Linked DNA regions of Homo sapiens. The protein of the gene in region 4 purifies or fractionates together with the protein of the main gene of each other region. This does not show direct contact. Each region holds a gene or a part of one and is shown on either strand. Other genes may lie near its edges.

Evidence for each region.
Region 1: the proteins of MCM5 (region 4) and PYGB purify together in Homo sapiens (affinity purification with mass spectrometry, with the first as the bait; one large-scale study listed by BioGRID). This does not show direct contact.
Region 2: the proteins of MCM5 (region 4) and FKBP5 purify together in Homo sapiens (affinity purification with a luminescence readout; 2 studies listed by BioGRID and IntAct, with this or other methods). This does not show direct contact.
Region 3: the proteins of MCM5 (region 4) and NUDCD3 purify together in Homo sapiens (affinity purification with a luminescence readout; one large-scale study listed by IntAct). This does not show direct contact.
Region 5: the proteins of MCM5 (region 4) and JUP purify together in Homo sapiens (affinity purification with mass spectrometry; 2 studies listed by BioGRID, with this or other methods). This does not show direct contact.
Region 6: the proteins of MCM5 (region 4) and CAP1 fractionate together in Homo sapiens (co-fractionation; one large-scale study listed by BioGRID). This does not show direct contact.
Region 7: the proteins of MCM5 (region 4) and SF3A3 purify together in Homo sapiens (affinity purification with mass spectrometry; 2 studies listed by BioGRID, with this or other methods). This does not show direct contact.

What each region holds. Positions count from the first base shown.
Region 1 is NC_000020.11:25,282,203-25,286,218, forward strand, and holds part of PYGB (glycogen phosphorylase, brain form), read left to right. Parts: intron 1-973; coding exon 974-1,075; intron 1,076-1,901; coding exon 1,902-2,049; intron 2,050-4,016. UniProt on the Homo sapiens protein: Glycogen phosphorylase that regulates glycogen mobilization. Phosphorylase is an important allosteric enzyme in carbohydrate metabolism. Enzymes from different sources differ in their regulatory mechanisms and in their natural substrates.
Region 2 is NC_000006.12:35,640,416-35,643,915, forward strand, and holds part of FKBP5 (peptidyl-prolyl cis-trans isomerase FKBP5), read right to left. Parts: intron 2,429-3,500; 5' UTR 2,410-2,428; coding exon 2,305-2,409; intron 1-2,304. UniProt on the Homo sapiens protein: Immunophilin protein with PPIase and co-chaperone activities. Component of unligated steroid receptors heterocomplexes through interaction with heat-shock protein 90 (HSP90).
Region 3 is NC_000007.14:44,389,659-44,393,674, reverse strand, and holds part of NUDCD3 (nudC domain-containing protein 3), read left to right. Parts: intron 1-1,189; coding exon 1,190-1,378; intron 1,379-4,016.
Region 4 is NC_000022.11:35,420,124-35,424,139, forward strand, and holds part of MCM5 (DNA replication licensing factor MCM5), read left to right. Parts: intron 1-1,194; coding exon 1,195-1,337; intron 1,338-3,090; coding exon 3,091-3,218; intron 3,219-4,016. UniProt on the Homo sapiens protein: Acts as a component of the MCM2-7 complex (MCM complex) which is the replicative helicase essential for 'once per cell cycle' DNA replication initiation and elongation in eukaryotic cells.
Region 5 is NC_000017.11:41,769,664-41,773,679, forward strand, and holds part of JUP (junction plakoglobin), read right to left. Parts: intron 3,264-4,016; exon of another isoform or gene 2,927-3,263; coding exon of another isoform or gene 2,884-2,926; intron 2,594-2,883; exon of another isoform or gene 2,530-2,593; intron 2,200-2,529; coding exon of another isoform or gene 2,192-2,199; coding exon 1,984-2,191; intron 15-1,983; coding exon 1-14. UniProt on the Homo sapiens protein: Common junctional plaque protein. The membrane-associated plaques are architectural elements in an important strategic position to influence the arrangement and function of both the cytoskeleton and the cells within the tissue.
Region 6 is NC_000001.11:40,057,422-40,061,437, reverse strand, and holds part of CAP1 (adenylyl cyclase-associated protein 1), read right to left. Parts: intron 2,105-4,016; exon of another isoform or gene 2,102-2,104; 5' UTR 2,092-2,101; coding exon 1,980-2,091; intron 1,372-1,979; coding exon 1,268-1,371; intron 1-1,267. UniProt on the Homo sapiens protein: Directly regulates filament dynamics and has been implicated in a number of complex developmental and morphological processes, including mRNA localization and the establishment of cell polarity.
Region 7 is NC_000001.11:37,983,380-37,987,395, reverse strand, and holds part of SF3A3 (splicing factor 3A subunit 3), read left to right. Parts: intron 1-2,616; coding exon 2,617-2,689; intron 2,690-3,135; coding exon 3,136-3,227; intron 3,228-4,016. UniProt on the Homo sapiens protein: Component of the 17S U2 SnRNP complex of the spliceosome, a large ribonucleoprotein complex that removes introns from transcribed pre-mRNAs.

The DNA.
Region 1 (4,016 bases), on a different chromosome or scaffold from region 4:
CCATGTCATCAGCCCCTGCTGAGCGGTTGCTGAGTAGGCAGGAGTCTGTCCCTCACGTGTTGACCTGCAGGCTTCTGGACATGAGGGCTGAGCCCCTGAACATGGGCGCTGAGCTGGGCAGTCACCCATTGGGCCTGGCGGGTCCTGTGTGCGAGTTCAGAAGCCGAGCTTTAGGGAGGGCTGGGGTGTGGCTGAGTGCAGCCACGGGGCCACTGCAAAAGAGTCAAGAGGCAGCTGACTGCCAGCTAGGCTGGGCACCTATTTCCTGTTTGTATGTTGGCTCCTATGCAAGCTCCCTGAGGAAATGAGTGCTGAGGTGTCAGGCCCTGCGCTACAGGCAAGGACCAGCCGCTGGGAGGGTGGGACCGCCCACCTGGGGCTATGGTCAGGGAAGCCTTCCCAGGAAAGCTGAGGTCTGAAGAGGGAATGAAGAGAGAGTGAGCAGTGCTCTGGGGCAAACTGGTTCAATGCCCTGTGCTGGGGGACGGGCCCCTGGGACCTGGAAAGCAGCGTGGCTCCTGTGCAGTCTGAGATGGGCCTGGGTACAGTGAGGAGAGGTGGCCGAGTGTTTGCAGGCAGCACCTGGGTGAGGTGCTGGCTTTGAGGGGACCGCCTGCTTCAGGCAGGGAAGGTGCTGGTGGAGGGCAGCGGGAGGATGGCTTTGGGTTTTGGGTGGTGATGGGATGTTCAATGTCAGAGAACCCTGGGATCGGTGGCTGAGGGAGGGTCGTGTGTTTCCTGTGGACGTTTGAACTGGTGGGACTGGGCCATCTCGCAGAGCCCTCTCAGAAGAGGAAGGAGGGGCTGCTGGGGTAACCCTGTGGCCTGAGAGGTGGGATGCCCGGAGGGGCCGGACAAGCAGATCCCAGGGGAAAGCAGGGGCGTGGGCAACAATGGGAGGAGGGCAGGTGGCTAGGGGGCCCAGCCTCAGGAGGCTGAGGCCCACAGTGAGCGGAACCTTTACGTTCTCCAGAAAATTGGGGAGGAGTTCCTGACTGACCTGAGCCAGCTGAAGAAGCTGCTGCCGCTGGTCAGTGACGAGGTGTTCATCAGGGACGTGGCCAAGGTCAAACAGGTAGGCATGGCCCTGGCCCCAGCCCCGACCCCAGCCCTCCCACAACCAGGCAGGTAGGCCCTGGCCCTAGCCCTCCTACAGGCCCAGCACAGGTCCTGGGGTACCCACTGGGGCTTTAGTGGGGACTCAGAACAGGACTGAGGGTGAGGCTGTTAGGGTTGCCTGAGGTCTCTCCACCCCACTCAGCCTTTCAGATGAGGGCCCCGAGGAGGACAGGTCACATGGCAGATAGGTGAGTGCAGACCCCAGGCCAGCCCTGCCCGTGCCTCGACCCTCTGCCACAGGTCAGTTCTGTATGGAAGCCTCTAGAAGCCGATTCCAGCGTGGTACCCTCTTTGCCCCTGGAGAGCTGTGCAGGTGCACGAGCTGTCTGCACCGGCAGCAGCCTCTCGGCTAGACCAGGGCCAGTCACGGCAGCCTTCAAACCTCAGCGGGCTGGAGGCCCATCTACACAGCCTGTCGAGCTTGGCCTCCTCATAGAGGCCAGAACTAGTTCTCCTTGTAGTCCTTTCAGCCGTCCCGCTCCCGCGCTGCTCCGCCGCCTGCACGCCTGGCTCTGCAGTGTCTTCTGCTTGGCTCCAGGCGTGCTCCTGGGCCGGCTCCTCACTTATCCCCTACTCTTGGTGTGGACCCACCTTCAGCATCCCCCTCTCCCCTTTTCCCATGAGAAGACCCCTGGTGCAATCTCTGCCCCTCAGCTCCAGCCTGTATACCCCTGCCCCCTCCCTGCGGCACTCTTCACAGGGCACTTGAAGCAGGAAGCCGCAGGGTCAGTGGATGGAGTCCTGGTGAAGTCTCCAGCCATCTTTCCCTTTCACCCTCCCAGGAGAACAAGCTCAAGTTCTCGGCCTTCCTGGAGAAGGAGTACAAGGTGAAGATCAACCCCTCCTCCATGTTCGATGTGCATGTGAAGAGGATCCACGAGTACAAGCGGCAGCTGCTCAACTGCCTGCACGTCGTCACCCTGTACAATCGTGAGTGCCGGCATCACCTGCATGACCGCGCTGTGGGGCCCAAGGCTTGCCCTTGCCCGCCAGCTGTGCACAGACCCTGGGCCTCTGTCATGGTGGGGGCTGTGTGTGTATAGGCGTGTGCATGTGTGATGTGGCACGTTTATTTTAAGCAAAAGCCATGTTTTTCTGTGTGCCCCATGCCAGGCCTCACGTGAGCAGGTGAACAGTTAGACACCCGAAAGGCCCAGGCTGGAGTGCAGTGGTGCCATCACGGCTCACTGCAGTCTTGACCTCCAAGGGCCCAGGAAATCCTCCCACCTCAGTCCCCCAAGTAGCTGGGACTACAGGCGCACGCCACTATGCCCTTGTATTTTTTGTAGAGACAGGGTTTCACTATGTTGCCAAGGCTGGTCTCGAACTCCTGGCCTCAAGTGATCTACCCACTTCTGCCTCCCAAAAGGCTGGGGTTATAGGCATGAGCCACTGTACCGGGCCTTCAGTTTTTATTTTAAATTTAGTTATTATCTTTGTGAGACTAATCTTATTTAGAAAGATTATGCTTATTAGAGGCATTTAAAGTATACTTACAAAAATTAAGATAGTATGTGTTAAATTTACACATGCATCTTATATGTCTAAGGACATTTAATTATGAGACAAACATGAAACAGAGACCCCCAAAGGTCAATGTGAATATTTGCTAGGTTTAATAGATAATGAAACCTTAAGGAAAAACTAGGTTTCTAAAATTTTGTAATTTAATAAAGTAGGTATTTTAAAAACCAAAGGAACCACACATCCTCCTTTCCGATACAAAGCTCCTCCCGGGAATAGATCTCCTATTCCCAATGAGTAAGCCTCGATGGGGTGGAGGATCTGGGTGCGTTTGAGACACACATGGTAGGACAGAGGCTAGAGGCCACCCCCGCTGAGGACCCCTCTGCCGTGTGGGCACCACGGGAGGTGCTTCCCGGGGCTGTGGCTTCCCGGCTCCGAGATGGTGCACGGGAACTTTGCATCATCTTTCCTTGCCCCATTTTCCTCCTGCAGTTGTGATGCTCTGTGTTCCCCTGGTGGTGACCCGGAGTCCTCCGCTTGCACAACGCTTGGTCCTATTGATGAGCGGCAGTGAGACTCGCGGGTCACCCCCTCCCTTCCTCCCGCTCCACCACCCCCACAGTCAGTTGCTGCATCGTCTTTTAGTGTTGGCCTTCAGGCTTTCCTCCTCCCGCTCCGCCACCCCCAGTCGTCAGTTGTTGCATCGTCTTCTATTGTTGGCCTTCAGGCTTTCCAGATGCTCCACTTCTGCTTGGTTGGTTCATTCGTTTTGAACGACACGCTGTGATTTCCAGCCGTTCACAGGAGGCAGCCAACAGGCTGGTGCTCGCTCCCACTGGTCTTCCCCCTTGCTCCATGTCTGTGTGTGCACGCATAAATGTATATGTGTGCATGCCTGTAAACATGTGTGCTTGTGTCTGTGCATGTACCTGTGGTGGACCTGCGTCTCCTTCCCCCACTGTCAGAGCTCACAGCATCAATACTTTGCCCTTCCTCCTGTCCCCAGCTGTATCAGTTTGAGTCTGGTGGTGAGTATGTTCACTGCTTCTCACGGTCCTTCTGCAAAGTGCTGCCCAGCCCTGCTGGCCACTTTGTGTCTAGTTCATGACTGGCTCATGGGAACAACCTTCCCGAGTTCTTGCTTGTTCAAAACGGCCTGGACCCTTCACCATGAAGGTCGGTTTGGCTGAAGATGCCAGTCTTAACTCCACTTCCTTCCCCCAGTGCTTTTTAGGGCCCTACCGGGCACTGTCTGGAGGGTGGGTGTGTGTGCAGAAGTCTGGCGATGTCTGAGTTCTCGATCTCATCAGTGACTCACTGTCATTGCCGTGTCTTGGTGTTGGCCGTTACAGGGCATTTTCGCCAATACTCCGGGTGCTTGTTGAACGTGTTGCTGGACTTCAGGGAAGTTGTCTGTTTGAAACGTGTGT
Region 2 (3,500 bases), on a different chromosome or scaffold from region 4:
AGAACACTTACCATGAATGGAACTTGCAGGACTGGAAGTTGTTCTGGATGAGTCAGCGAGTGAGCAGTGAGTGAACATGAAGGCCTAGGATATTACCATACACTACCGTAGACTTTATAAACACTGGACACCTAGACTACATTTATTTTAAAATTTTTCTTCTTTCTTTAATAATAAATCAATCTTAGCTTACTATAACATTTTTACTGTGTAAACTTTTTTTTTAGCTTTGACTCTTGTAATGACACTTAGAACACAAACACTGTACAGCTGTACAAAAATATTTTCTTTCTTTATATCCTTATTCTATAAGCATTTTTCTGTTTTTTAAATTTTTTATTCTTTTACTTTTTAAACTTTTTTTTGTTTAAAACTAAGACACAAACACATACATAAACCTAGGCCTACAGAGGGTCAGGATCATCAGTATCACTGTCTTCCACCAACACATCTTGTCCCACTGGAAGGTCTTCAGGACAGTAACATGCATGGAGCTGCTGTCTCCTATAATAACAATGCCTTCTTCTTGAATACCTCCTGAGGGACCTGCCCAAGGCTGTTTTTTGTTTGTTCATTTGTTTTTGAGACAGGATCTCACTCTCACCCAGGCTAGAATGCAGTGGTATGATCATAGTTCACTGCAGCTTGGAACTCCCAGGCTTACATGATCCTCCTGCCTCAGTCTCCTGAGTAGTAGAAACTACAGGTACATGCCACTATGCCTGGCTAATTTTTTTAATTTTTTTTCTACAGATAGGGGTCTTACTATGTTGCCCAGGCTGGTCTTGAACTCCTGGCCTCAAGTGATCCTCTTGCTTTGGCCTCCCAGGGTGCTGGGATTACAGGCATGAGCCACTGCACTCAGCCAAGGGTGTTTTACAGTTAACTTTTTAAAAAATAAGAAGCACACTCTAAAATAATGATAGAAAGTATAGTAAACACATAAACCAGTAATATAAACATTTATTATCAAGTATTATGTACTATACATAACTGTGACTGCAGTGCAGTAGGTTTGTTTACACCCACATCACCACAAACACATAATACACTGTACTACCCATGCTACAACAGCTATGGCACCACTAGGCCATAGGAACTTTTCGGCCCCATTATAATCTTATGGGACCACTGCTGAAGGTGCAGTCTGTCACTGACTGAAATGTCATTATATGGTGAATGACTGTATAGTGCTTTAATAAGTAGGAAAGCTAATTCAAAAGTAAGATATATTCTAAGAGGAAATCGCAAAAGATATCTTCACTGTACACAGGAACAATATTTATATATAAAAATAAACCCCTTTGGGCCGGGCACGGTGGCTCATGCCTGTAATCCCAACACTTTGCGAGGCCAAGGCAGGCGGATCACCTGAGGTCAGGAGTTCAAGACCAGCCTGGCCAACATGGTGAAACCCTGTCTCTACAAAAATTAGCGAGGCATGGTAGCAGGCGCCTGTAATCCCAGCTACTCGGGAGGCTGAGGCAGAATTGCTTGAATCCAGGAGGCGGAGGTTGCAGTGAGCTGAGATCATACCACTGCACTCTAGCCCAGGCAACAGAGGGAGACTCTGTCTCAAAATAAAATAAAATAAAATAAAATAAAATAAAATAAAATAAAATAAAACCCCTTTGAATTTTTCAAGTTAGCTTTTCTTTCCTTAAAAAGTCTTCAAAATTGTCATTAGCTAGCTTTAGTGTACTAAAAGGATACATTAAAATAGTAACCTATTTGTATACTCTGAGAATAGGGAAATATAGCCCTTTAGAGTGAGATATAACTTGGACCTGAACCCCAGGTAAATCTGCATTACTAAGATATATGATATTAGGCAAGTTAATTTACCTAGCCCAGTCTCAATTTCAACATCTATAATCTGGGATTAAAAATTAAAATCTCTAGCTGGGCACAGTGGCTCGTGCCTATAATCCCAGCTACTCAGAAGGCTGAGGTGGGAGGATTGCTTGAGGCCAGGATTTCAAGACTTGCCTGAGCAACATAATGAGATGCCCTCTCTCAAAAATTTAATTAATTAATTTAAAAAGAAAATCCCAGCTACTCAGGAAGCTGAGATGGGAAGATCACTTGAACCCAGGAGCTCAAGACCAGCCTGGGCAACATAACGAGACTCAACTCTTAAAAAAAACCTTGAAGTTATGAAGACAAAATGAGAATCTAGCTCTAGTGTTTGGCACTTAGTAACCATCAATAAACATTATCCACCCCAGCCCCCCTCAGAAAGAGATGCTATAATCTTTCCAGACAGCAGGTTTCCTTGTATGTCACTCAGCTTTGTGGCCTCACCTTTAATACTCCCCTGTCTTTTTTGGAGGTAATATCCTCTCCCTGCTCAGCAACAGTGGCTGTGGGGCTTTCTTCATTGTTCTTGGCACCTTCATCAGTAGTCATTGTCTTTTAAGTAGAGAACCTGGTAAGAAGAAAAATATTTTAGCTGGGAAAAATATCACTTCTTTATGAATCTTGAATGTCCCTGGGAACTGAGCTCTACCTAACCTAAGATTTACTTAGGGCCAATAAGCTTAGATACTGAAAATGAAAACAAAGGCATTTGCTATGAGCATGTATTGATGTCATCAGGCATGTAAATAAAACATCATCCAATTCTTTAATTTCCCATCTAGCTCTGGTCTCAAAACAGAGAACAGTACAAGTCAAGTTGGGTAGTGATTACATTCCTTAACATAACATGGTGAGAAGCAGTCCCTTCACAACTTTGAAAACATCCTTTTTCTACAGCCATATTCTTGACAGAGGATTAAGACCTTATCAGTTCTTAATAAAAGAAGTGACAATATATCAATCACAGTGAGACACAGAACAGGATTTAGAATCCAACAGACCCAAGTCTGGGTCCTAGCTGCAGCTCTTGACATTTCCAGTTTCCTTAATCTTGCTGAGCCTTCATTTTTCATCTGCAAAATGGACACAGTACACTATTCATAGTTACAGTGAGATAACATTTCTTAAAAGATTAGCATAGATTGGTAACTTAAACATATTTAACCATTTATCATCATTATTGGGCCTTCTGTAGGGTCATTTTTCATCTCCTGCCCAAAATACCTACAGAATGTTCTTCCATGTGGCATTCAAGGCCCTTCACAATCTGGCCCTAATCTATCTTTGAGTTCTAGCTGCCATTATTTTATTTTACTTTCTTTCATGCAGCTCATGCTCCAGCCAAACTAGGCCAATTCCACCTCTACAACAAACCCAGTGCTTTCCCATAGTCATTCTTCTGGTCACTCCCTTTCTTGTTTCCAAAACATCCACCTCTCTCAAATCCTACTTCTGTCATACCAACCTTGACCCTCTATTTGTAGGCCATTTTGCCCTTTTACGTACTTCCTTAGCTCTTCTCTCGATTTGTTGTCTGTAAGAGATTCATAAGACTATGCGCCTGTTAGGTTTAAAAGATCCTTCAGAGCAAGGTCCATGCTTTGTTCATATTTAGATTCCCTAGAATGCCTCTACCTTTG
Region 3 (4,016 bases), on a different chromosome or scaffold from region 4:
ATGTGAATGTACCTCTTTCAATTGTAAATATTATGAAATCTAAACACAGATCAAGTATTTCTGTTGAAAAAGTGCAGTGCTCATCTAGGGCAAAGTAGACAAACCCACTCTGTTGCTTCTTGGCCACTCTGGTAAGAATTTTGAGCCCAGCCACTGACCACAGCAGATGCAGCCAGTTTTCTTGTTTTCTGTGTCTGTATGACCACTGATAACAGGGCATGGTGTGGCCAGGGCCCTCCTCTGTGTCCCTGGGACAGGCCAAGCAGCCAGGGTCACCTAGGTACATACAGCACCCCTCACGTTTGCTCTCATACTGCAGTTCCAGTTGTCTTTTAAGTTTTTATGGTAATGACATGAGTCTCACAGACCCCAACACTGAGGGCTGGATCTTAAATGCTGGGTGCTGCTTCCTTTGACCAAGGGATGTCTGTGCCATCCCCACAGAGGTGCCCAAGGAGGCCTCTTTTGGGGTTGTTTCTTGATGGTCGTTTCTCCTTCCCAAGCCATCAGAGAACTTTAGGGAATGGGGCTGGAGGACCCCCTCATGCAGCAAGCTTGGCCCCAGTGAGGAAGAAGTGGGGACAGGGCATGGTGCCCTGTCATGGGGTGAGGACTCCCCAGGAGATTCTGTCATGCATTAGGCTGAGCCCTAAGTCTCATAGGTCCCAGCTTACCCCTAAGATAGCAGAATGTTGGATGTTGCTCTTGGAAGCAAGAGAGATCACTGGAGAGGTAGTTGGTTGATAAGAGCTAAGCAGAGCCTTCCATGGCAAGCATGGGGGCAGGCTGGGTTGGCCCAGGACAGGTCCTGGTGTGGGGGGGTGTCATGGGTCTTGGAAAATAGCCTTTCTTCATGAGAGTGGGCAAGGTGTGCACATGGAACAGGCACTGTCCTGAGTATCCAGGACCTGCTGAAGAAGGATAAAGGCATCTTCCAGAATGTCAGTCCCCTCAGGTATGTGCCTCCTAGCTCTTCCCTGGGATATGTTAGCACAGGCAGCAAATGCATTCCCAGGCACAGAGGGTCCTGCCTTGGGTTCTGGCACCCCCTCTTGTCTGTCACCTCCCTTTGTGTAGTTGGTCCTGAGCTTATCCTGGACACCCATCCCTCAGTGGGCTCTGCTCTGTCCCCAGCCCTGGACACCTGTCTCAGGTCTCTGACTCAGGTCTCTGTCCTGCTTGTCCCCAGGTGAACCTGAGCAAGGTGGGCGAGTATTGGTGGAACGCCATCCTGGAGGGAGAAGAGCCCATCGACATTGACAAGATCAACAAGGAGCGCTCCATGGCCACCGTGGATGAGGAGGAACAGGCGGTGTTGGACAGGCTTACCTTTGACTACCACCAGAAGCTGCAGGGCAAGCCACAGAGCCATGAGCTGGTACGAGCATGGCAGTCCTGGAGAGTCCACCCTTTAGGCCCTTGTGCTGGTGACAAGGCCGATAGTGGCAGAGGGGTTGGTGATGACGGTGGGGAAGAAGGTTGTGTGGACCAGCTTCCTGCCATGTCCTAGCCTAGCAAGGAACCTGTCTTACCTGCTCTTGTCCCCAATCACTGCCTCACAGGTGCACTCTGGTCTTTCAGCTGTGTTCTCATACCTGGGCTGAGAGCCCAGTTAACAGGACCTCGAAGGGTGTCATGAGATCTGCCCTTCCTGCACCAGAGCCTGGTAACATCAAGTGTGTTGATGGCTTTTGTTTGTGCCTCATCTGCACATATCTTCCCATGAAGAGTCGCTTGGTGGGACCTTTGGTAGAGGAGGGGAGGGAGCCAGATTGCAGAGCCAGTTTCTGGATGTTGGAGGCCAGCATGTGAAGACTCTGTGATGTCAGCAGTGGGTTAGGGAGGAGGAAGAGAAAGGTTCCTGTCTGACCAGTGTAGTGCCCAGTGTAGAGTTTGCTCATGGCCAAAGAGAATGATTAATTAGATGTATACATTCTTTCTTCCTATTTTAATAACTCCAAGAGTAGCTATTTAGGGAAAAAAGGGTTGCTTTCCTCAGATTATTTTTAACTTCCCGTGTCCCATATACCCAGCACGTGGGTTTGGGCCGCAGTACAGCAGGGCACGCGGACGCAGTGCAGCCTTGAGTCAGTGGGGAGGGGTCATCTGCTGGGCACAGTCTCCTTATTTTTGTTCTGTAAACACGGACCGCCTCCTCCCCCTGAAGATCGCTGATCGATATTTTCTTCTCATTTTGTCTCTTGGAGGAACCTTACCTTGTGGTGTATCTGGATTGTCTTAGTCTTACCTTCCGGTACAGCACGTATTAATACATCGTAGGTGGTTCTGCAAGCCCTGTTGCTGTGTCTCGTCCGTTCTTGCCTATTTTCACAGACAGGTGCATCCTGCTCTTATGAGGTGAAGGAGCCTGCGGAGAGGAGTGTCAACATGTTCTCCTCACCTGGCCCTGCCACACCAGGGGCATGTCCTGAGCACTTAGTACACACAGTTAAGGTGGGGTTGACTGGCTGCACAGTACCCCTGAAAATACAGTTTGTTTGTTTTTTGTTTTTGTTTTTGTTTTTTTCCCCCCACAATAGAGAGATTGAATTTCTGAGGTTGTGACTCAGTAGCTTAGGCAGCAGGGATGGGGTTTGACCTCTGATTTGATTTCACACCTGTCTGTCCTCACAGCCCTGTCCACCCTGGCCCTTGTCTCTATGGAAGAGAATGTTCCTCTAGGTTTGGCCCCCTTTTCCACCCGGGGCATGGCAAGCTTAAAGGACATCTTTGCTTGGCCTACGTCCATGCAGAGTTTGAAGCCTCAGGTAGTATTGCAGCACCTGCTCAGCTGAGCTCAGCTCAGGTGCTTAGACAGCCAGACCTGCCTGGTTATGGCTCATTCCAGTTATGCTGCATTTGCCTGTGGCCACTAGATGAAAGGCCAGCCTTTGAACCTTTGCCCTGTGGGTAGGGCTTCTCATGGTAGTGTTTGGGGATGGTGTATGTGAGGGTCTGCCCACTCTGTGCCCATATTCAGCATTGGGTCCACAAAAGGACTGAGATGTATTCATGAGTTGACCTTCGGGAGAAAGAGTCTGTTTTGACTGGAGAACATGAACCCAGATGCCTTTTGTTCCAGAAAGATAAGAAGGCAGTCTTACCATGTACCCCTTAGAAGTGTCTTTTTGTGCCACAGGATGGAGGGACTAAGGTCAGGTGGTTTCTCACATCTTCCCCAGACACTGACACTGAGCCTTTGTTACAGAGAGATGATAAAAATTATTGTAGTTTGAATGGTATTTGTGCGTTTGTCAAAGCCTTGATGAAGTTTTTGTAGACTTTATTTTATTTTATTTTTTAAATTTTTTGAGACAGAGCCTCGCTCTGTCACCCAGGCTGGAATGCAGTGGTGTGATCTCAGCTCACTGATACCTCCGCCTCCCAGGTTCAAGCGGTTCTCCTGCCTCAGCCTCCTGAGTAGCTGGGACTACAGGCGCACACCACCACGCCCAGCTAATTTTGTATTTTTAGTAGAGACGGGATTTCACCATGTTGGCCAGGCTGGTCTCGAACTCCTGACCTCAGATGATCCACCTGCTTTAGCCTCCCAAAGTGCTGGTATTACAGACGTGAGCCACCACGCCTGGCCAGTTTTCTGTAGACTTTAGCTGTTGAGGCATGAGAGAAGCTAGGATGCTCTGGCTGTTTTTATCTGTGAGCCCTCATGTTTCCTGTGATTGTATCTCTTACAGAACTTTATATTCAAAAACAAAATAGCAGGAATACCTGCTCATCATTGGAGTTGCCAGTAGTGCCAAAGACACGCATGGAGGTGTCAGGGGCTCCACCAGCCTTTTCTTCTCTACATCCTTGCCCCTCCCCTTCCCTCCTTTCTTTCTGTTTCCCTTTTCTTTCCCTTACATCCTCCCCTCTCCTTGACCTTCCTCTCAGTCTCTTTCCCCCATCCTTTATGTTCTGTGCCAACACCTTGTAACATTGCATAGTCTCACCCCTCTATTGGGGCACGTCGGTGAGGAAGACAGACACAGATCTGCCTTTGTGGTGCTAGGATT
Region 4 (4,016 bases):
AGTAGCTCTGGGCAGGAAGAGTCCCTTTGGAGCATAAACTATGGCCTCCTTGATCTCAATGATGATCCATGTTTCTTGATTTAAGGCCGGGCAAACCTAGACCCCTCTTGTCTGAATTTGGCCTGGCTTCTCCCATTGTAGGAAGCCCGAAGGGAGGGAAGGACCCAGGCCTGGGAGTCAAGAGTCTTGGGTCCCAGCCTCTAGCCCACTGTGTGACTGTAGGGAAATTACATTCCTTCTCTGGCCCTCAGTGCTTTTAGCTCCTAACTCTGTTCATTCTTGTGACTTTGTAGACAATACAGTGGGTAAGAGTTGGGATTTACCTGGTTTGAATCCTGTCTCCAGCACTGACTGGTTGGAAATGGATTTGGCTATAAGTAATGGTAAATCCAGATAAAGTAGCTTAAAGAAATAGGAAGTTCATTTCTCTTTTCTGTAGCACTGTCTGGAGGAAGATGGTATGGGGACTGGTGTGAGGACTCCTCAAGCTCCCCCTTACTCTTAGTCCGAGATGGCCGCTAGAACTTCAGCCATCACCTCCAGGCAGCAGGACAGGAAGGAAAGAGAGCTTCCCTTTTAAAGGACACTTCATGAAGTCCCACACAATGCTTGGACTTACAACTTACTGCCATAGATTGGTCACACAAATACAACCTGGTACAAAAGATGTCTGGGATGTGTTTTAGTGGATCGCTGTGTGCCAGACTAAAAACTGGGGTTCCAAGCTAGGTGCAGTGGCCTACATTGTGATCCTAGCACTTTGGGAGGCTGAGGCAGGAGGATTACTTGAGGCCAGGAGTTTGAGACCAGCCTGGGCAACATAGCAAGACTCCCATTTCTACAAAAAATAAAAAATTAGCCAGGCATTGTGGTGCATGCCTGTAGACCCAGCTCCTCAGGTGGCTGAGGTGGAAGGATCACTGGAGCCCAGGAGTTCGAGGCTGCAGTGAGCTATGATCATGCCACTACATTCCAGCCTGGTCCACAGAGCGAGACTTTGTCTCAAAAAAAAAAAAAAAAAAAAAAAATTGCAGTTCTATGACTAAGATCAAAAGGGAGATGGATTATGGGGACACCTAGCAGTCTCCACCACAGTCTTACCACTTTGGGCAAGCACCTCCCTGGTAACGGGCTGGCTGGGGAGGAAGGGAATAGCGGACCGAGGCTACCCTGAGCACGCTGTTGCCCCCACAGGCAGCTGGAGGCCATTGTGCGCATCGCGGAAGCCCTCAGCAAGATGAAGCTGCAGCCCTTCGCCACAGAGGCAGATGTGGAGGAGGCCCTGCGGCTCTTCCAAGTGTCCACGTTGGATGCTGCCTTGTCCGGTACCCTGTCAGGTGAGCAGATGCAGGGGCCATGGTCTCAATTGATCTGGGTTCCCTGGCTCGGAGCTCTGTGGGCAGGGCTCTGGCCTGCTGGGGGCCTGCAGTGTGTGTCTTGCTTCTCTGAGTTTGCTGAGCTTCTCTGAGTTTCTTTTTGCCATAAGACCCCTCTCCTCCTTTCTCCCCACCGCTGTTTCCTCCAAGATGGGAAGAAGCAGCTTCTCTCCAGACCCTTGAACACAATCCTCTTGACCCAGGTCATTGATGATAACCCTTCTCACTGGCTAGGAACAACAGTTGATGCTCTGCTTCCTAGAGCTTGTCAGCATTTTCAGTGCTTCCAGAGTTATTTCTTGCATTTTGCCTTACAGCTGCCCCCTGGAAGCCAGGTGAGCAGTCAGTCCTGCCCATGTTAGAAATGAGACAGCTGACACTCGAAGGGGCCTTTCCCTGGTGCCCAAGATCACAGTCGCTTGGCTGGAATGCAAGTCTCCTGGCCCCTAGGCCAGCGTTTTCCACACCATAAGCCATACTGTCTGGTTTCGGTCAGCCTTTCAACAGACTGTCCCAGGCACCGATCATGAGCCAGGCTACCTACGCTGGGGAAAATCTGTTCCTTCACCCAGCAGATACTTCATTAGTGTTACTGTTTGCCAGGCACTGTTCTAGGTGCTGGGAGTATAAGAGCAATCAATCACAGGGTCCCGGCCCTCCTGGGTTCTCATTCTCGTTCTAGTTGGGGAGAGATAGACAGTAGAGAAACAAATGCAGGTAGTGTAGGTAGTGAAAAAGGCAGTGAGGGAGATGATGGCAGGGCCAGGTGTGTTGGAAAAGGAGGACGTGCTCTTTCCCATGGAGTGAGTGGGCATGGCCTCTGCAAGGAGGTGATGCCAAGCAGGGAGCTGCATGAAGGGGACAGTGTGGCTCCTTGGGGGAAGAGCTGCTCAGGTGGAGGCAGCGCTAAGTGTCAGTTTCCCCAGGAGGGAGCAGGTTTGGTGCATTTGAATGGGGAGGCACTTGGGTGAGGAATGGGGTGGGTGGGGCCTGTTCCTCCTGTCCCCCTTGGTGAAGACTCAGCCTCTACCCTGGAGACACTTGCTGTCACATGAGACATTGCAGGTGGAGGCCTCTGGGATGCTGCAGGCACAGAGGGCAGGGGTGATATGGAGTGGTGATAATTTGAGTTGGGTCTTATGGGCTATGTAGGAGTTTGCCTCACAGACTCCCCTCTCAATGACTTCTTGACCATGAGCCCACCATCTCCTTAGCTGAAACACCAAGGCCTCTGTGGCAGTAATTGGAAGTCACGAGCCTCCTGGTTGCCGAGGGCTCCTCAGGGCACCTCGTAGATGTGTCCAGGGCAGGCTGGCTTCCCTCCTGGGTCACTGATGGGCCCCTTCCAACTCTCTCTCTAATCTATCTGCTCCAGCAACAAAAGGAGTCCTGCTGTGGCCTCCAAGGGCCCGCAGGACTTGGTCCCTAGTGACACTCTGGCCATGTCTCTGCTGCGCTGGGCCCCGGGCTGCTTTTTGAATGAGACAGGTGTGTTCCTGCCTCTGTGACTTTGTGCTTGGCCTGGAGTGTCCCCACATGTGCCATATCCTGTCTCCTCAATCAGGCCTGCACCACCCTGGCACACTCGGTGCCCTTTTCTGACTTACTCTTCGGGGCCTGGCTCAGGCTGTTCTTCCTTGGGCTAGAGGCTGTCTCTGTCCAAGAACTCCCATTGTCCCAGCTCCCCGGCTGCCTCACTTCTCCATGCCCACAGGGGTGGAGGGCTTCACCAGCCAGGAGGACCAGGAGATGCTGAGCCGCATCGAGAAGCAGCTCAAGCGCCGCTTTGCCATTGGCTCCCAGGTGTCTGAGCACAGCATCATCAAGGACTTCACCAAGCAGGTGAGCCTGCCTTGGAGTGGGGGTGTGAGCCGGCACGGGGTGCAGGTCTTCTGCTGGTTCCCACCCACTCAGCACTGGCATCTTACTCAGCAGACAGGCCCTGAACGGGGGTAGGATGGACAACTGTCCCTTTCTCAGACCTTTTCTAGCCATCATTCCTTCCCTAGGGACATCTTCATCAGGAGCAGGGATGGGGGTATTTTTTCTGTCCCACGAAGGGGAGGGGAGAGCAGAGGTGGTTGGATTCTGGTGAAACCCCATACAAGTTCCCCGCAGCCCTTCCCGTCTGTGCCTTTCCCCGTTGGCGGGCGTTTCATGGAGTGGGAAGGGGCAGAGCCATGAGAGTGAGCTTTCTGGCTCACTGAGGAGGGTACTGTTGGCCCCATAGAGAGAAGATGGGATTTCCCAGATGCTCTGGAAAACCTGTCACCTTTAAAATCTCAGGATTAATCCTAGTTTCTGGTCTCCGCTCCTTGTACATCATCTCATTTTGATTCAGGGCAGTTTAATGGGTGGTATCGTGTCTATTCTATAGGTGCGCAGACTGAGGCTTAGAGAAAGGTTTAGAGCTTCGGTTCTAGAGTCAGATGGGACTTAAGTCCCAGCTCTACCTCTTAATTGCTGTGACCTTGAGCAAGTGGCTTAGCCTCCGTGTGCCTCAGTGTCTGGTACACAGTGGGCACTCAGGAAGTGTGGGCCCTTTAGGTCAAAGGAGCCTGAGTACAAAGTTCCCCGTGAGCCTGGGGATGTCTGGGCTCTGTCGGAGTCCCCTCGGGCAGCACGTGCCGTTAGCCAGCC
Region 5 (4,016 bases), on a different chromosome or scaffold from region 4:
GTACTCCAGATCACCTGGGGGCCATGGGGACAGGGACTGAGTGCAGGCAGTGGGCTGGGCAGACACTGGGGAGCAGGGCAGGCCACAGACAGCCCCACCTGGGTCCTCTGGGCTACCTCTTGCCCTGCCCAAACCCCCAGCACATGACTGGCCATTCTACCTCTCACCAGGAACCTTGGGGAAGTCACCATCACCTCAGTAATCTCTGTAAAATAGGCCCCACATGTTCTGTCCATCAAGGGAATTTTTTTTTTTTTTTGCACACTTATTATGTGCCTGGCAGTGAATTCAATGCCCTGCTTATATTTTCTCACATAACCTGACAACGACCCTGCAAGGTAAGTACTATCACTGGCTCCACTTTACAGATGGGAAAACTGGGCACAGAGGGGTTATAAGGCAGCCTGACTCAGGGGCCCAAACCCCTACTCTATTCTCCTCCCTTACCCATCAGGTCTGTTTTCAACCCTGAAATCTCAGGAGTCTAATTACACCCTCATCATCCCCAACGGTAGCAATCCTCCCACTATACAGGCAGGCAAACAGAGGCCCAGAGAACCACCAACATCACATCTCACAGCAGATCAGAGGGAAAGTCAGGGCTGTGGGTTCAGAGAGCAGGAGCTGGGTCCTCAGCTGAGACGTCAGGTTCCTCTCTAGCTTCCATCCCCTGGGTGGGTCTGGGAGTCCCACAGGTAGGTGCCCAAGCAGCCACACCCTGGCAACTGTCCTGATGCCCCCAGGGAGAGGGACGCAGAGGTTCCACCCTCTAATTAGTCGAGAAGGAGGAGACAGCTGCATGGCTTTCCCACCTGGATGCTGTACTTTTTGCTACCAACACAGTGCCTGGCCCTGCCAGCCAAAAGGCCCCCTGCTACCCCTACCAGCTGTCAGGGAGGAGACTGGCATGCGAGGGCTGAGCTCCATAGAGCCCCACCAGCCACAGTCTACTCACACTACTCCCAGCACCCACAGCCCACCCCCTGGCATGTTCAGGGCCCTGGAGGCACCTGTGGCCAACAGTTCTAGGGCCTGGCTATTCCTCTCTCCCAGAGGGGCAGGGGAGGCTTGGGCTGGCGGGGCATCCCCATCCCGGACTAAGCCCCAGAGCTGAGTCAGTCACTCATCCCACAGCCTTGGCCTATCTGCAGGTCAGCCGCAGAGGCCTGGTCTCCCTCCAACCCCAACGAGGGGCCCTCAGGCTTGACACCTACACCCCTCTACCCAAAGGGGAATCCCTGGGGGTTCCTGGGGGCTACGGCCCTGGCTCTCCCACAAACGTGAGGCTCCTGCAGCCAAAGGGCTGCGTCCTCCCTGCCATCCATGGGCTCCCTGAGAGCCATAGTGATACATCCTCATCAGACTCTTTTTTTTACTATTTTTTGAGACGGAGTCTCACTCTGTCGCCCAGGCTGGAGTGCAGTGGCGCAATCTCAGCTCACTCCAACCTCTGCCTCCTGGGTTCAAGCAATTCTCCTGCCTCAGCCTCCCAAGTAGCTGGGACTACAGGTGCATGCGCCACCACACCCGGCTAATTTTTGTATTTTTAGTAGAGACGGGGTTTCATCATGTTGGCCAGGCTGGTCTCAAACTCCTGACCTCAGGTGATCTGCCCACCTCAGCCTCCCAAAGTGCTGGGATTACAGGCATGAGCCACCGTACCCAATGTCTTCATCAGATTCTTATGTTCACAGAAGGCAAGGACTATGGCTTTTCCTTCAGACTGGAGGCACCCTAAGGGCAGGGACTATGCCTTCCCTCCCTACTGATGGTTCACAGAAGAGGATTCTGTGACCCTCCCAGATGCAGCACCCTGAAGTAGCTGCACCTCCTCCTTCAGACTGGGTGGGCCCCTAGTTAGCATGAGCTGTGCCTCCTCCCTCAGACCAGAGACCCCCTACAATCTGCCTCCTTTCACTCTGACCTCTCTCCAGGACCCAGGCAGGTTTTCTGCCCCATGCAATAGTCCCCAGGGGTCCTGACCTTGGCTGGGGGGCACCCCCTGGGTGTAAGTGGTGGTTTTCTTGAGCGTGTACTGGCGCCCGCAGGCCTCATCCTCCTCCATGATGCCCTTGCTGCTGACGGAGGGCACGCAGGTGTTGGCGCCCGAGTGGATACCCGAGTCGTAGGTGTATGTCTGCTGCCACTCAGTCACCTTGATAGGCTGCTCCATCAGGTTCATCACCTCCATCGTGGCTACTGGGGGCACAAAGGAGGAAGTCAGGAAGCAGGAAGTCACCTGGCCCAGCCCCCAGCTTCAGCCCGTCACCAAGCCCCGCCTGTCTTCCCACATCATCACCATGGCCCAGGGATTTCAATGAGGATGCAGGCTGGGGATGGGGGGACTGCCCAGAAGGGCACCAGGCCCAGGGAGGGGCTGCCCACGACGAGATACCCTGGGAGCAGTGAGCCCCAGGGGTGCGGCTGTGTGTATGTCCTGGGCTTGCATCTCTGACCTCCCAGGGGGATGAGCCCCAGGGGGCAGGACAGTCAAGGGCCAGCTGCCGCCAGAAGCCCCTGCTCACGCACCTTGCTGCCCTGACCCAACTCTCCCAGGGGCAAGAGAAGGCACTCAGGGCTTCTAGCAGCTTCTGAGGTCCCCTGGGCCCACCCTCAACTACTGGGGCTCCCTGGGAAAGGCTGCAGGGAGGAGGCACCCAAGCCATTGGGCAGGAAACTGGGCGGGGCAGGGAAGCGGTCTGACAGGTTTCTCTGGAGCGCCCCAGGCTCCCTCAGAGACTCCAGGATCTGGCTTTCCTACAGGTTGGGCAGGATCACACATGGCCCTGAGGTCCAGACCCTAAGGCCCCCTCTCTCCCAGCCCTCCCAGTCCCTAGACGCCTCTTTGAGTCCCACAGAGCAATTCAAATCTCAGCTACTCACTACTGGGGCAGTTCCTCTCCCCACAGAACCTCAGTGTCCTCATCTGTAAAGCGGGGTCACGCCACCTCCCTCAGAGGTGGTTGCGAGGACCTGGTGCATAGCAGGTGCTCAGAGGCCACGGCCATTATCATCAGCACTGCCTCTCCTCCAGAAGTGCTTCCTCACCTCCTGGTCTCCTCGAGCCCAGGCTAGGGATCTGGGGTGGGGCAGGCCTGTGGGTGGTCACTGCCGTCAGGAACCCCTCTCTCTCTCTGCAAAGGTTTAGGCGCACCTGAAGGTTAATGAGTAGCAGGGCCGAACTTTGTACCAGGGAGGTGAACTTCCCGCTTGGTCTGTGTTTGGCTCCACTGTCCTGGGAACTGACCTGCAGAGGTCAGAGGCTGCGGGGAGAATGGACGCCGTGATCCCATGAGGGCCTACTACGAGCCAGACCTTTCACAGACACCGTCATGCTCATGGGCGGGTTTCAAAGCCCATGCACTGGTCCCCCGCGTACAGATGCAGAAACTGAGGTTAGAAATGGCAGAGCTGGGACTGGGACCAGGTGTGAGGGCACCAAGGTCTGTAGTCTTTGCACATCCCGGCGCAGCCTCAGTGAGTAAGCAGAACTCAGGCTGGTCCACCCATGAAGCCAGGCAGCACCCGGGTTGTCTCACTGTGATGGGGACCAGGTGAGGGTGGGGTGGCTGGGGCAACCTGGCCCCACCCCAGGAACAAAGATCACCAAGGATAAGTCTTCCCTGTGACTGCCCCAGTGCCGCCCTGGCCCTCCAGGAGGATGACGAATGGTCCTGCAGGTCTCCCAGCCTTTTATGGCAGGCAGCCGTGAGCACACCCGGAACAGGCAGAGGCAGGGGCCAGGCCAGCTCCCAGCTGCCTCCTTCCTCTCCTCCCGCAATCCCTAGTGACTCAGAGTTTCAGGCTGATTAAACAGAAGCAGTCCCGCCACCTCAGACGGCAGACCCCAGACGACAGGCTCGGGCCGCCAGATGTGCACAGCTGCTTCCCAGGCATTCGAAAGTGTAGCTATTTCAGAAGGAGCCCCCCCAACCAGCCCCCTTTCCACACGCACCCCTTCCCCACACCCCTTCCCCAGCAACAGAGGGGAATGGCCACTGGCAGGAAACAGGGGC
Region 6 (4,016 bases), on a different chromosome or scaffold from region 4:
AATCCTTCCTATTTCACATCAGCAAAATAAAACAAACAGCAACCAAAAAAACACCTTTCTTTTCTCAAAAATTGGAGACAGGAGTAAAGGCAAAGGCCTAAATTTCTGCTGAAAATTCTCAAGGTATTTACTCCTTTAGATTAAAGCTATCTCTCAAATGCCAGATACCATGACCCATTAATAAATAATTAAATCAATTTAGTGAGCTTAATGGAACAAAAGTATGAGTGCAGTGCACCAACTTCAAGTTATTTCCAAATAAAAAGTTAAAAAAAAAAAAAGTACAGCAGAAGTAGTATAAATATCATCTTGTGAAACTTTTATCTCAGTTACGAATATGTTCTTTCTTTCTAAGGGTCATTCGCAGTCAAAAGAATTTAAGAAACATGAGACTGTAAGCACTATTAAAATACAAAAATTCAAAGAAAGCAATCTATTTTTTCTGGATTTGCATTTTTAAAATACAAATGATAAATGTTTTAAAGTTTTTTCAAATGTTACAGAACTGTATTAAGTAAAAATGCAAGCCTCCACACCCTTATTAAAGTCCCAGTCCCACTCTCTAGAGCTAAAACCATTGGCAACAGATGGTATTTGAGAGGCTCAAAATAGATTTTCCAAAAGCCAAGCAACCAGTCTTCGAGAAAGGTTTAGGTGAAGAAGTTCCCAAGCATGGTTACTGTTTATAATTCGGTGAGCTAGCAGGAAGGTTTTTGGGTCCCAAAAATAGAGGTAGAATGTATATGTGAGTGTGGGGTGGGGGTGGGGGGTGGTGGTGATGACGTAGGAGGCATAAAGGAAGGTGGGAGGAAAGGCACCTGTCATTGCCTACTTCATATTCTTGCTGTGGGTTAAGTGTGAAAATAACCCACATTAGCATAACTAATAACTATCAAGCATAGTTTTATAAATGCTAAGTCATGATAATGACTCCTTTAAATAAGCCACTGTAGGTTTGATTATGTAATATGTTGGGATCAAACTGGTGCATATTCTTCACTACAAAGATGAACAGAACCATATTTTATGTACCAAGCAAGCTTTCTGTATAAATACGTGATAAAAGCAAGGGGCCTAGAAAAAAATGAGGAATCGTTTCTGTGGCTAGACTGAACTCCTCAGTACAGGCAAAAGAGAAAGAACATGTGTAATGCCCCAAACCAAGAGGAACTTCTCAAGGAGCTCTTAAACCAAGGATGAGGACCTTGGCTGACTGAAGAAAGCTGTTAGTCCTTAAAAGAAGGGGAAAAAGGCAAAACATCCTTACATGTTTCTGCACGTCTCCCCCAATCTCTTTACTGATCTTCAAGTACTCTGCCACAGGACCAGCAAGCAGCGAGTCAAATGCCTGCACATATGGAGCTGCTCCTGCTAAAGACAAACACACCACAAAGAATCAGCCATGCATCAGAAGGAGGCTTCTTTAAAACGTGCTTCTACATGAAAGTGGGGAGGCAAGGTAATACAGTCAACAGGATACAGAACAGGAGTAAGGAAACCTGGGTTCCAGGTCCAGTATCACCACTAACTGGTTGTGTGACCCTGACTAAATTCCTTTTCCTCTCTGAGCTTAATTTTCTTTATCTATAAAATGAAAATAAACAAAATGATCCTCCAAGGTTTTTTTTAGTGCTAACATTCTATGTTCCAACTGGTGCATGTGCAAAATGTCCAATTTGCCAATTGTTTGGAGAGAGGAATTTTATTATCACTTGTCATTTGACTTACATTGGAGTCATTCTGCTAAAGAAAGAGCAGGAAATATTGCACAAGCAGGAAGTTCTTGTGTTAAAATAACTTAACCACAGGCCTCCCTGTACAAGTCATTTCCTCTCTTATCTGTTCACAGCAATACAAATTACAAAAGGTAAACTTTCTAGATTAAGTTTTGGGAAGTTAGCGCCAAAGGAGAGAATAATAGAAAATTTTCAGGCCAAGACGCTCAAAGAAAGCATTCTGCTGGGCTGTGGACTGCTTACCTTTTGAAGGACTGTCTGCATACCCACGGTGCATGTCAGAGGTATGAGATACTGCCTCCAGGCGGCCCACTGCCCTCTCCAATCTTTCTACCAGATTTTGCATGTCAGCCATAATGGACCACCTGCTGAAACAGATCAAATGTCATTTGTTATTTAAATATTAAATAGCACCTACAGAGAAAAAAACAGAAAATTCCTGGTCATCCCCAGGTGGATGAAGAGGATGCCAATTCTCAGGAACAGAATAATTTAATAAAATTAGATATCATCTGCAAAATGGAACAATACAAAAATATCAGATAAAAAAGTAGCATATTTACAAAATCAAAAGACCTCATTAAGCAAGAGAACTGCTCAGGAAAAGGTGTTCACTAAAGTAAATGCTTACTCATTCAAATACTCAATATTTACTATGATACTGTGTGTAGAAAGTTAGAATTTGCAAAGGATAGTCACATACATTATCTCAGTTTGAGCCTCCCGACAACTATTCAGGAATAGAAGGATGATTACTACACGCTTAGAGATAGAAAACTTAGTTTCAGTGAAGCTAAATGACTTGTCTAGTCACACGGCCAGTGAATAGAGAAGCCAGTACTCCATCATATCCTTATCTGATCCTTCTGGTTCTAAGTTCAGTGTGTTTTTTTCCTACAACATCCTGCTGCCTGCATGTGAAATATCCCAAACCAAGATGAATAGGATGTTTACTCTTCCCTCAATAATTTTTTTTTTTTCAGACAAAGTCTTACAATGTCACCCAGGCTGGAGTGCAGTGGCAGGATCTCAGCTCACTGCAAGCTCCACCCTGTTGGGTTCAAGGGATTCTCCTGCCTCCCAAGTAGCTAGGGTTATAGGTGTGCGCCACCATGCCCAGCTAATTTTTTGTAGTTTTAGTAGCGACAGGGTTTCACTGTGTTGGCTAGGATGGTCTTGAACTCTTGACCTCAAGTAATCCACCCGCCTTGGCCTCCCAAAGTGCTAGGATTACAGGCGTGAGCCACTGTGCCCGGCCTGCCCTCAGTAATTTATAGTCTAATGGGGAGACTTAACATATGCACTAACAACTATGAAACAAATAGAAAAAAATGTTAAGGTGACATAAGAAAGTTGCTGATAGAGAGGCATGAGATTTCAAAGAGGGGAGTAATATATCAGCTGGAAGGATCAGATAAGGATATGATGGAGAAGCTGCCATTTGAGCCAGCCTTCAAATGAAGATGAGAAAGATCTGGACATGCAGTAGGGAAGGACACTAGACACATCCAAAAGAATTTGTTATAGATCTTTCACAAGTACTATCTTATCTGAAATAGCCTAATTCAATGTCTAATATCCCAAAGAAAGTAAGCTCCAACAGAGAAAGGACCTTATATAGCTTGTTCCTTACTGTATACTCTACCATCTAGACTACTACCTGGCAGGTAGTAGATGTTCAATAAATATTTATGAAGTTATAAACCTCACAAATAGCATTCCAAAACTCCAGAGGGATAAGGGTGCTAAAAGTTGCCCATAAGTCACACATAAGTGTAAAATATGATCAATGCACCTCTACATAAAGTATTTGAGACCCTAAGTGATCTCATAAAAACCAGTCAGTGAAATTTCAATCCAAGCTTTGACTTGGAAAGATTCCATTTCACAAAAGCGTCAATTCAGGCAACTGAATTCAGTTCAGGTAACTGAAGCTGAATGAACTCAACTCCCTTGAAGCTGCCTAAAATGACAACAGCAATTATGATTCCCCCAAAGATGACAGCATGCCAGAATTATCTCAATTTAACACATTGTCCTCCCTGTGGAAGAGATAAGCAGCTCACAAGATAAAGTAAGGAAGACAATATAGTCTCTGTCCATTCTCTGTGTACAGGCTCTGGTCTCTGTGGGCCCAATCACTTGTCAGAGAGTGTTGTTTAAAAGAGAAGCAAAGAAAAAAAATGAGAATGAGAACCAAACAAACCTTTCCATTCCTTGGCCTGCAGCAGCAGCAGAAGCCTCCAGGTCTATGTCCTACTCTCAAATAGAGCAGACCAT
Region 7 (4,016 bases), on a different chromosome or scaffold from region 4:
GCTTTTAAGCCAAGGCCGGCTGGGCACGGTGGCTCACGCCTGTAATCCCAGCACTTTGGGAGGCTGAGGTGGGTGGATCACCTGAGGTCAGGAGTTCAAGACCAGCCTGGCCAACATAGTGAAACTCAACCTCTACTAAAAATACAAAAATTAGCCAGGCATGGTGGCATGTGCCTGTAATCCCAACTACTCAGGAGGCTGAGGCAAGAGAATCACTTGAACCTGGGAGGTGGAGGTTGCAGTGAGCCGAGATTGCGCCATTGCACTCCATCCTGGGGGACAAGAGTGAGACTTTGTCTCAAAAAAAAGAAGTCAAGGCCACATTTTGTGGGCAGCTCCCAGCCAGTGACTGAGCACAGTATGGGTACTAGGGCCCAGCAATTTGGTCCACTCTGAGACTCCTCTGATGAATAATCTTTGCTCCATGGCTCCCCGTTGGGTTGGTCAAGATTTTGTCCAATCTGCATTGTGGTCTAGGCTATCCTGTCCTAATCCTACTTTCTCTTCCTTTTTATCTTTCACAGAAATTACTCTCCCCAATAAATTGTGTTCCTAACTCTGTCTTTTTTTTTTTTTTTTTTTTTGAGATGGAGTCTCGCTCTGTTGCCCAGGCTGGAGTGCAGTGGCATGATCTCGGCTCACTGCAAGCTCCACCTCCCGAGTTCATGCCATTCTCCTTCCTCAGCCTCCTGAGTAGCTGGGACTACAGGTGCCTGCCACCACGCCTGGCTAATTTTATGTATTTTTTAGTTGAGACAGGGTTTCACCATGTTAGCCAGGATAGTCTCTATCTCCTGACCTTGTGATCCGCCCACCTCGGCCTCCCAAAGTGCTGGGATTACAGGCATGAGCCACCGCGCCCGGCCCTCATATGCCCTGGAGCTCACTTATAATAAGGTAAAGAGAAAAAGGGCCTGGGAAGGCTTCCATCAGAAAGGTCACATGACCACTCCAGGTGGTGTTGCCTTACTGAAGTTAAGCAAAAGAGAGTTTCAGAAAGGCAGTCATGGTGTCAACTGTTATTGATTTATATCTGCCAGGATTGCTGCTTCATTAAAGTAGTATGAATGGAAATCTGGTCACAAGGTAAAGATGGGTAATGGGGAAGTAGAAGTATGGAGTATGGAACATGCATTTGAAAGGCTGGTAGCCAGGTGCAGTGACTCACGCCTGTAATCCCAGCACTTTGGGAGGCCGAGGCGGGTCGATCATCTGAGGTCAGGAGTTGGAGACCAGCCTGGCCAAAATGGTGAAACCTCTCTCTACTAAAAACACAAAAATTAGCCGGGCATGGTGGTGCACGCCTGTGATCCCAGCTTCTCATGAGGCTGAGACAGGAGAATCGCTTGAACCCAGGACATGGAGGTTGCAGTGAGCTGAGATCACGCCACTGCACTCCAGCCTGGGCAACAGAGCAAGACTCCGTCAAAAAAAAAAAAAAAAAAAGTCTGGTAGGAAAAAGAAGGGGAGAAACAGGAGGGTATTGGGGAAGACAGAGAAGCATACTTATTTGAAGGAGCACAGGGAAAAAGGAAGAGACTAAAAACAGCAAAAAATAGAGGCTGTTTATTGCAATACATAGCGCGGAGGTAAATGAAGGGACCCTCACACACATAGCCCCCTTGGAGGATAGAGAATGAGGTCTTCTGCTAACCAAGGGAGAATAAATGAATACCATTCTGATGTGTTAACCTTATTCCAGCCATGGTCAAAAGGTAATGAGGAATAAATGCTTAAATAACTGATTAGAAGGATGCCCAAGATATACTAAATGTCAGACGCAAGTCTTTTATGTTAAAAAAACAAAAACAAAAACCTATGCAGGCATGAATGTACTTGTACAAATACATATATTTAAATACATAGAGCACTGTTTTCCAAACTTTGTGCATATTTGAGCCACCTGGGGATCTTTAAAAAGTACTGATACCTGCCCTCCTTTGATTTAATTGGTATCAGGTGCATCAGGATTTAAAAAAAAAACTCCCCCAGGTGATTCTAATGTGCAGCAAAGTTTGGGAACCACTGGCATAGCAAAAGCTCTGTTAACAGTGGTCACCTGTTCTCAGGAGAATTAATAAAGGTGGACTTTTGAGTTTTTGTGAGCATGTGTTACTTTAGTGGGTTTTACTCAAACAGTACAAAAAAGCGGGGAAAAACAAGGTAATTGGAGAACAGTAGTAGATTTCCTAGTGAAAAATCAAGGCCAAATAAATCATCAGAAGTCCAACTTTCTGTGTATTTCATTTCTGTGATCTTGCAACTTTTACATTGAAAAATCCGCCTGCGGTCAGGCACAGTGGCTCATGCCTGTAATCCCAGCACTTTGGGAGGCCAAGGTGGGCAGATCACTTGAGCTTAGGAGTTTGAGACCAGCCTGGGCAACATGGCAAAACCCTGTCTCTACTAAAAATACAAGAATTAGCCAAGCGTGGTGGTGTGTGCCTATAATCCCAGCTACTCGGGTGGCCGAGGCAGGACAATCGCTTGAACCCGGGAGGTAGAGGTTGCAGTGAGCCAAGATTGTGCCAGTGCACTCCAGCCTGGGCCACAGAGTGAGAATCCATCTCAAAAGCAAAAAGAAAAATCCACCTGAGCTTTTACTTTTCCCCTCAGATCTGTGTGCCAATGTCAGTGGAATTTGAGGAACTCCTGAAGGCTCGAGAGAATCCAAGTGAAGAGGCACAAAGTAAGTAGGGGTGAAAATTTCATTCAGCACCAGCAAAAATACAGGTTAATGACAGCTCAGATTTGCAGCCATGGCCTCAGAGATATTTATAGCCAGGATTTCTTGCTGGTTTTGTCTTTGCTGGTTTCTGGGCTAGAGTGACATCCTAAGTTGGTCTTGGGCAAAATGTTCATTTTGTTCTCTCCTACCTCAAATTTACTGGCTTGGAAAGCCAAGGATTGTTCACTTTAGTTCACAATACTAAAATGAGTCAGTCCTTGTTACCTTGTAAGAGAAAACTCACTTTTGATCTCACTTAACTTATTGGAGGTTATATTGTGAGCAAAGGGAAGACATTTGGGTGAAGTGCTGCCTCAGGAAACTAGGAACACACAGTCCATTTGAAAAGGTAAGTCCAAGAGAGTGGTCTGTAGAAACTGAATCATTGATGTATCTGATTCCCTCAGACTTGGTGGAGTTCACAGATGAAGAGGGATATGGTCGTTATCTCGATCTCCATGACTGTTACCTCAAGTACATTAACCTGAAGGCATCTGAGGTAAGGCCTGGGAAAGGGCAGAGAGGTTCTGATTCTCGAAGTGAGTCAGGACAGTAGGCTGGAACTAGCAGACATGAAGCCATTGTAAAGTGTCTTCCTTGTGTTTTAAAACTCTTATGTAAATATTAAAGAGGTGATATGCTCTCTTGGAATGAAATACTATTCAAAATGAAAGTTTTCTACAGTGAAAACAAGAAGCATATTTATTTATTAATACTTTTTTTTTTATTTTGAGATGAGGTCTTACCATGTTGCCCAGTCTGGAGTGCAGTGGTATGATCTTTGCTCACTGCAACCTCGACTTCTGGGCTCAAGTGATCTCCTGCCTTAGCCTTCTGAGTATTTGAGGCTACAGGTGCATACCACCACCACACTTGGCTAATTTTTGTCTTTTTTTGTAAAGATGGGGTCTTGCAGTGTTGCCCAGGCTGGTCACAAACTCCTGACCTCAAATGATCCTCCTGTCTCGGCCTCCCACAGTGTTGGGATACAGGCATGAGCCATTGTACCCAGTCCATTATCAATACAGCAAGCATATTTTACCTTTGCCAAAATAAATCTTTTTTTTTTTTTTTTTTTTTTGAGACAGGGTCTCACTTTGTCACCCAGGCTGGAGTGCAGTGGCGCGATCTTGGCTCACTGTAGCCTAGACCTCTTGGACTCAAGTGATGGATCCCGCCTCAGCCCCACCAAGTACTTGGGACTACAGGCGTGTGCCACCATGCCCAGCTAATTTTTTGTATTTTGTGTAGAGATGGGGTTTTGCCATGTTGCCAAGGCTGGTCTTAA